2 separate regions of the Homo sapiens genome follow, and region 1 is linked to region 2. Evidence: fine-mapped expression QTL. A gene starts in region 2. The other region holds a variant in brackets. All regions are shown on one strand. Distances are from middle to middle. Region 1 overlaps TOLLIP (toll interacting protein). Region 2 holds the start of TOLLIP (toll interacting protein).

The links. PIP is the estimated chance that this variant, and not a neighbour inherited with it, causes the effect.
Region 1: its variant is fine-mapped to the expression of TOLLIP in whole blood (INTERVAL, PIP above 0.99).

The regions. Positions count from the first base shown.
Region 1 is chr11:1,274,650-1,278,897 of GRCh38, reverse strand. It overlaps TOLLIP (toll interacting protein), which reads left to right. Exons shown (of 6, transcript NM_019009.4): 6 at 1,645-4,248. The coding sequence ends at 1,859. Among named protein-coding and RNA genes, the nearest start is that of MIR6744, 20 kb to the right of the region's middle. The variant G/T (reference allele first, on the strand shown) is at 2,053.
Region 2 is chr11:1,307,701-1,311,948 of GRCh38, reverse strand. TOLLIP (toll interacting protein) reads left to right here and starts at 2,317. Exons shown (of 6, transcript NM_019009.4): 1 at 2,317-2,483. The coding sequence starts at 2,451. TOLLIP-DT (TOLLIP divergent transcript) reads right to left here and starts at 2,241. Exons shown (of 1, transcript NR_029409.1): 1 at 1,242-2,241. RefSeq lists silencers at 497-626, 2,152-2,861 and an enhancer at 1,160-1,921.

The sequences.
Region 1 (4,248 bases), 33 kb after region 2:
TGCCAGCCGGGGCGCCCAAAAAGCCACGGGGATCCCAGGGGTCCCTCCAGGACAGACAGCGCCCAAGCCTTTGTCTTGTTTGAGGAAGAAGAAAGGGTGGTGAGGGTGGCCACGTCCCCACCTGGCCATGGTTCGGTTCGTTTTCCGTCATTGCCGAAAGGCTGATGAGCATGGGGATGATGCTTCCCCAGTGAGGTGAGGTGTCCAGTGGCCAGGACAAGAGGCAGGTGTGGGTGTGGAGGAAAGGTGGGCCTGGCCCTGAGAGAGCCGAGAAGCAGAGGAGGCAGGGGTGGGTGTGGAGGAAGAGTCGGCCTGGCCTAGAAGGAGCCGGGAAGCGGTGGCCTTCCTTGCTGAGGAGTCCTGGCCTTTGCAGCAGGTGCAGGAGGCTTGGTGGCAAGCCCTGTCTGCTCCGTTTACACCCCTGCAGGTCTTGTTGCTGGTGTTGGTTCAGGCCAGGATTGAAGTGGCTTCTGCTGCCTTTAGGATCCTCCAAGTGTAGAAAGGAACAAAAGTCCTATCCTAAGATTGGGGCTCTAGCGCTCCAGTGATCCTAGCTGGGAGATGGTTCGTGCTTTTAAAGGTGAATGAACGGGTGAGCAGTGAACCCTTGCACTGCTGCAGCTGCTGCTGCAGGAGGAGCTCTGTGCCTCGCTGGTCGCCGAGCCCCGCGCACGCTGCCTGTGCTCTGTGCCTCACTGGTCGCTGAGCCCCGCGCACGCTGCCTGTGCTCAGGGCTGCTCGTGGTTTTAGGGAGCGGCCACCAGGCTGGGAGGCGAGTCTTAAGTCCGGCCACACGGTGCCTTCAGGGGTGTGTGTGCTGCAGTGGCTGAACCGCCGTGCGTCTCCTGCTCGATAGATTGCATCTCAGTGTGTCCTCCCGCATCAGACATGGGGCGAGGGGCCTGCGTAGCTGTGGGGTGGAGATGCCAGGAACCCTGGACGGTGGCCCCAGTGCACTGAGGGTCCACTGTACACCGCACCTGCTGCCCCACTTGTTTGAGTTTTGTGAGCATTTTCTTGGTGTAGTTTGTATGTGTGTGTGGGGTTGTCATTCTGGGCATCGGCTGCAGCTTTGCTGAGGTCTTCAGTGCCTGTGGTGATTGTTCCCCACCGGCACACAGTTTAGTGACACACTTGCCAAGCTGCAAAAGCATCTTCTAGAATGCCTGATAAAGGAAGAGGCTCAGACCGTGCAGTGTTTGGATCAGCGGGCGTGACATTCCGTGTAGTCCGTCCCCAGATGCAGAGGACTCTGTGAGCCCACTGGTCAGTGAAGACGAGCGTGTGCAGTGCAAATTCACGAGTTCTGAAGGGATCAAAACACCACCCCCAGCCTGCTAGTTATAAAACAGACTCGGGTGAGATTTGAAAGATCAAACTTTGATTTTTATATGGAAGGAAGATGAGTTAGTGAAGGAGGCGTCACAGAGGGCCCTGCCCACCTTCCCCGTGGCTGTGCCTGGGGTTGCTGTTTGGGGGTTTGCCTTTCCAGGGTGTCTTGCGGGACTGGTGTTTGCTGAGACCCGAGGTGGCCCCTTCCTCAGGGAGGCCGGTGGGATGCGTTGTTTTCTTCCTTCAGCAGGAGCTAGTGTGGCACTTCTGGAACTTTCCGACGTTTTTACCAAACTTGATCTTTGCTTCCAGGGATGCCCGCTGTCTGTAGCCCCGGCATGGTGCCCGTGGCCCTGCCCCCGGCCGCCGTGAACGCCCAGCCCCGCTGTAGCGAGGAGGACCTGAAAGCCATCCAGGACATGTTCCCCAACATGGACCAGGAGGTGATCCGCTCCGTGCTGGAAGCCCAGCGAGGGAACAAGGATGCCGCCATCAACTCCCTGCTGCAGATGGGGGAGGAGCCATAGAGCCTCTGCCTCGATGCCGTTTTGCCCCCGCTCTTTGGACACGCCGACCCGGCGCTCCCCAAGGAATGCTGTCCCAACAAGATTCCCGTGAAAGAGCACCCGTGTCGCCCCCTCCCGTGGACTTCTGTGCCGCCCCGTCCACACCTGTTCTTGGGTGCATGTGGGTTTTCGGTTCCTGGCGGTCCAGGACGGG[G/T]CGGGGGCTCCCCTCCCATCTCGTGCTGGGAGGTCTCAGCGCGCTCTCCTGTCCCTGGGACGTGCGTCTCTCCTTCTCATGCCGTTCTGGAAAATGCTCTTGCTGTAGAGAGCAGCTGCTTCTGCCAGGGTGTTGGAGGTGGTGGAGCGCCTTCCGATTCCATTCATGGCATTTTGTGATGTGATGTAATTGGAATAGAGCTGTTGATTTAAGGCACACACAATCCCTCACACTGTGGGTTTTTTTTAGAACTTCCCAGACGAAAACTCACGCCCTTGCCCTAACGCGCTTTGCTGTGAGCCTGGCCCCTGCCCAGGGCTTGGGTCTGGTGAGCTGAGCAGCTTCCTGTGGATGGTGTGGGGCCGGCCTCTGGCCTGGCTCACCTGGCCACTGTCCAGCCAGCCTTGTGACAGACTCCGGCCTGAAGGCAGAATGAACCCACACCTGGAGTGAGGAAGGGGGCCTGGCACGGTTGGCCAGGCTCTGCCTGATTGCCAGCCAGCGGGCATCTGAAGCCGGGTCCTTCGCCCGCCGGAGGCTGCCGTCCGTCTCTCCTGCTGCGCTCGTGCCAGCTCCGTGGGTGTCCTCCCAGGGAGCTTCTCTTCTCAACAGGCCTTGCGAGGCTGGGGTGAGAGGTGATAGAGGCAGCACTGTGCATGATTCCGAGAGGGTGTGGTGGCACTGCCAGCCGACTGCTGACAGCTTGGGAGCTGCTGTGCCCAGGACGTGGGTTCAGCGTGGGCGAGGAAAGCCTGGCGAGCGTGGCCCTGTAAAAGCTTTCTGAGGCGGGAGGCGCTCACTTACCTCTGACTGCCTGGGCGCTGCGTGTAGCATCTTGGCCTACAGGACAGATTTTAGGTGACACCTGGTTATGACAGTCAGAAATTTGAGAAGCTTCTCACAAGTGATGCACTTTAAATAATCTGCATGCCATTGAGACACCTGCATGTCTGGTGTTTGTGGTTCAAGTGTCTTGCCGCCGGCCTTCGGATGTAAACCCACTGATAACGGACAGAAAGAGAATGCCCACAAGTGGGTCTTCTGTGGAAGATGCAGAAGGAGGAAGTTAGTGCTTACATTTTAGTCTTTTTCTCCCTCAAAAAAATAGGTTAAGTTTCAGTGCCAGCTAGAAAATACTGCTTTCTGCCATCGATTGGGGGTGGTTTTTGTCAAATATACTGTTGATAAATATTTATTTTTGTAAACTTGAAGTGTGTGGTGGCCGTGGGGGAGGGACATGCTGGCAGCAGGCGCCTTCTTCAGCTGTGGGTCCTAAAGGCCTTTGATCCTTTGAAGAAGAAAGACATGGTATTTGTTCAGCAGACGCCGACCACTCAGACGGAGGGGCCCCTGGGATTCCCTGTCTCAGATGGCCTGGTCTTACGCCTGTGTAGATTTCTTCTCCATTGGGAATGAAGGTGTCAGGCGGGACTGGAACGTTCTAGATGGTATGTTCCGTGATATTAACAACTCTAACCCAGGACAGACCACAAGCCACACTCAGAGGCCTCACTGTGCTGGGGGCTTCGGTGTCCAGGCGCCCAGGTGTGGCCACCAGCACCGGTTTCTGCCTTCGCGTTGCTGGGGTGCAGTGAGACTGCCACACGCGTGCACATGTGGCTCTGTGGGTGTCTCCTAGAGAGGACGTGGCCCCTGCTGCCAGCCCTTGAGCAGCCCGTGTGGGGGCCCGAGGGACCCACACAGTGGGGGCCAGCCTCGCTGGAGGGAGAGCAACCCTTTGCCGATGACCACGCTTGCCGCCATCTCTTAGTTTTCTTTTTCACAAGCGCTTTATTTTTTTAATAGACAAATCACATTTTGCAAGGCCTTTAATTAAATAAGATTCTTCTTTCCTTCATTTTATGCTTTATTTCCTGTTTGAAGGCTTACTGTAGAAGTGGCTTACTGTAGAAGCAGCTTGCTGAGCCCCTCCGAGCGGTCCCCAGAATTAGCTGGTTCACAACCCCCACCCTCCCCCGCCCCCGCCTGTGTCAGGTGTGGATGAGGTCGTCACACTCAGAAGGACAGGCTTGTCTGCCAGCTCACAAGGGGAGGCTGCAGTGGGTTTGGGAGCTGGGTTTAGGCCCCTGGTGTCTGAGGGCCCAGGCCTTGCCAGCCTCTGCTGCTCCTGCTCCTGGGTTTGAAGATGCAGGCCGATCGCCAGCTCCGTGGCAGCGGTCACTAAGGACAGCCTGA
Region 2 (4,248 bases):
AGCAGCTGAGAGACCCTTGAGAATAAGTCTGAGAGCAAGATGGAGTCTTTTATAACATCAGGTAATCATGGGAGGGACATCCCATCACCACTGCCATATTCTGTTGTTTAAAAGCAAGCCACAGGCTCTGTCCACCCTCAAGACAAGAGGATTATTCAAGGATGTGAACACCAGGAGGCAGGGATCATATGTCTACCTTACAACCTGTCCACCCCATAGGGGAATAATATTAAGGCAAGAGCTGAATCTAGTGTTTAGCGGAGGTCCTGGTGGGAGATACAGATTTTAGGATCATCAGCATATGGATGGCATTTAAAGGAATGGAACTGGATGAGCTCACTGAGGATGTAGATAGAAAAGATGTGCAAGGACTGAGCCCTGAGGTAAGGCACTCCGATGTTAAGGAGTCAAAGTGTTACCAGTGTGCCCTGGCATCTTGTAATCTCCCAGGATAGAAATAAAGAGAGATCAGCAGACATAGCAGCGAGGAGAAAGAGAAATCTTTATTTAGCTTGTGCACAAGGAAGTCAGCACCATGAAAGGAAAACGGTGGGGGGCCCCGCCGCCAGGGGGTGGCACGTGGGTTAGTTTCACAGGGAAGGGATTGGTCCAGGCATGGATAGGAGGGGTTTGTCTAGTGCTTCTCAGTAGCTTTGCATGCTTCTTCATGCATTGCATGCAACATTCACATTTTAAATCTCTACCCCTAGGTGTGATTTTTAGCGTGAAAATGAGGAAGGGGTAACAATAGTTGAAGTATAAGTCTAACTGCACATGTGGGGCCCGGGGAAGTCCCTAGGCCCCCAAAGCAGGAACTTGTGGTTAATAGCTTCTTGGGTCTTGTGCTGTGGATTGGCTGGATGTTAAGCTACAACTTGAGGAAGGGGCTTTCGTTCTTTTTCTCTACACCCCATCAAAACAGGCAAGCGGCCAGGCTGCCGGTTTTAAAAGGAGAGACTGGTAACCGAGACCCAAAGATGTGGTCTTTGGGATAAGAGGAAAGTGAGAGCACATGGTGTCCTGGATGGGGAGTGAAGAAAGCATGTGTAGCAAGAATGACTATCGATTTTGCTGTAGTTCCCGGAGGACGAGGACTGAGAACTGACCACTAACAATATAGAGATCACTGACAAAGAGTTTTTAGTGGAGTGGTTGTGTTACCGGAAAAGGGTCCTGATCCAGACCCCAAAAGAGGATTCGTGGATCTTGTGGAAGAAAGAATTCCAGGCCAGTCCACAGAGTAAAGTGAAAGCAAGTTTATTAAGGCAGTGAAGGAATAAAAGAATGGCTACTCCATAGAGCAGGGTGTTCCCAAAAGCACGAGGAGGAAGGCGTCCACCTGGGTACGCTTGTTTATATGTAAGATAAAAGCCAAAAAACATCACGGGGGAGACGTGCTGTACTACCTGGGCTCGTCAAAGGATTGCCAATCTTTGCATAACGCCTGTCCTCCGCAAGCATCTGTATCATTATCTTTAAAGCGAAACTTCAACTAAGAATGCTTCTTGTTCTTAAGATACCCGGACATCGGGACCTAAGTTCCGGGTCTGCTGCGTAAAAGTTTATTAACCTGTTCCCGTGACCGTAAACGCCCGACTCCTGGGGATGCAGCCAGCGGGGTTCAGCCTCAGTTTACCCAGCGCTGTTCGAGCTGGAGTCGCTCTGGTTGGAGCGCCTGACCGCGAGGGCCGAGGTCAGGCCGGACTGGGGTTCTCCGGAGCGAGCAGGAGAGGAGCGGGGCTCCTGCGGAGCGGCGCGGCGGGGAGGCCGAGGGCAGGGCGGGCTCGAGCTCGGGCTCTTCTGGCAGCGCCTCCATCCCCGTTCCGTTCACCCGGCAGCCGCCCCGTGGAGGAACCGCGCCCCATCTTTAGCCCTGTGAAACAGAAAGGCCCTTCCTCCGGCAGGCAGCTGAGGGAAAGATCGCCCTGCAGGGGATGTCGGGCCTGTCACTGCTTTGTTGCGGGCCACAGTTCCCTCCCTTCTCCGAGCGGGTCGCACGTCCGAAGGTCACCCCCGCCAGGTGGCTAGGCCCTGTCGCCACTCGACAGAGGACCGAGGAGGAACCAACCCACTGCCCAGACTGCAGCGCCGCCACGCTAGGGCCCGCGCCGACAACCGTCATGACTGGGCATGCGCAAACGGCCCCGCCGGGAGCCATTTCGCCGGGCTGCAGGGCTCGAGGAGAGAGCAGGTGCGCAGGCGCCGGGCGAGAGGCTGCGCCTGCCCTACCCTGGAGCGCGCGTGCGCGCGAGAGCCGGAAGGGGCGGTGCCTGGCGCGGCGCCTGCGCAGTGGGGCGGTGCCGGGGGCGGGGCGCGGCGGCTGTCAGCTGACTGTGGCGGCGGCGGCCTCGAGGTGACAACTGTCTCCGTCGCAGGCTCCGGCGGGGGCGCAGGAGGTCGCCCGGCGCGTCACTGTCGGGTCGGCGAGCCACGGGGGCCGCCGCAGCACCATGGCGACCACCGTCAGCACTCAGCGCGGGCCGGTGAGGCAGCCGGGCGAGGGTCGGGCGGGGGCGGTGACCTGCGGTTGCGGGCGGGGCCTTGGGTCAGGGCTACTGCTCAGCTGCGGCTGGCGGGCCGACTCCGCGGCTCTCCCGGGGCACGCGGGGCGCCTGGCCGGCCGGAGGGGAGCGGCGGCGTCCACACCTCGGGGCGGGGCGGGCCGGACGGACGCGCCCACGCTGCAGGAGGCTTGAGCTCACCGCCGTGCCGGGGCAGAGCTTTGGGGAGGCAGCCCCGGGGGAGGGGGCCTGCGCCCGTTGTGAGCCCCAGATGGAGGCGGGCCCCGTGCCCCATGGTGCCCCAGAGGGAGGCAGGCCCCGCTCCCCAATGGTCTCCAGATGGAGGAGGGCCCGGTGCCCAGATGGAGGCGGCCCCGAGCTCTGACTCCCGAATGGAGGAGGGCCCCGCACCCTAATGGTCCCCCAGGTGGAGGCGGGCCCTGAACCCTAATGGTCCCCTAGATGGATGCGGGCCCTGCTCCCTGATGGCCCCCCAGGTGGAGGCGGGTCCCGCACCCTGATGGCACCCTAGATGGAGGCGGGCCCCGCACCCTGATGGCCCCCCCAGGTGGAGGCGGGTCCCGCACCCTGATGGCCCCCCAGGTGGAGGCGGGCCTGCACTCTAGTTGGTCCCATAGATGATGGCTGTTTCCTCTTTCTCATTTACACAGAGTGAGGGCAGTGGTGACCACTTCTTGGGCCCAATTGTGTCCCCGGTTAGTGGCCACCGTGCAAAACCTCAGTTTCTTCATTTGCAAATGAGAGGATAGGCGCCAGGAACTTCAGAGAACCTTTCCTGCTCTGAATTCTCTCCTGAGAGTTGCCTGGCAGTTTCTTCTATAGCATTAATATTGCAGGAGAGCTGGTGTAGACTGACTCAGAGATGATGGGCTCCTGGCGTGAGTGGCCTCCTGGCTCACTGTTAGGGCCTTCTTGCATTGCTGTAAAGGAATACCGAGACTGGGTAATTTGTAAGAAAAGAGATTTAATTGGCTCCCGGTTCTGCAGGCTGTACAGGTAGCATGGTGCCGGCATCTGCTCCTGGGGAGGCCTCTGGAAGCTCCCAGTCATGGCGGAAGGCCAAGTGGGAGCTTACACGTCACATGGCGAAAGCAGCAAGAGAGTTGGGGGTGGGGAGGTGCCACACACTGTAATGACCAGATCTTGTGAGAACTCACTATCACCGGGACAGCACCAAGCCACGAGGGATCTGTCCCTGTGACCCACACACCCACCCTGCCAGGCCCCACCTCCAACATTGGGGATCATAATTCAGCGTGAGATTTGGCGGGGACACAGATTCAAACCGTGTCACTCACTGAGGCTGGGCTGGGGCAGGCTGTCGTGAGCGGTACAGTTTTTATCAACAGTGGCTCTGAACATGCCGTGGGTGGAAAAAGTCCTTTTTCACGATGCTCCAAGGTCCCTGCCCTCGCGCAGCCCAGTACTGGACGTGGTGGAGGGGTCACCAGGGCTCCCCACCCTTAACACTGTATCCACAAGTCCTGGTGTTTCTCCCGAGGAGATAATTCTTCAGGTAGAACATTTTTTCTGAGTTTAGAATGAAGCCCCAGGTTTTGGGCATAGCTGCTTTTTCTGAGGACTTTGAAGGAAACCTCCTGACACTTATGAGACTCAGGTGTGGAGCCTACGGGTCGGCAGAGGTCCTGGACGGCCTCTGATGGCAGCGTCTCTACCTCTTCATCTTTACTCCACCACAGTGAGTCCCCGCAAGTTGCCGTGGCAG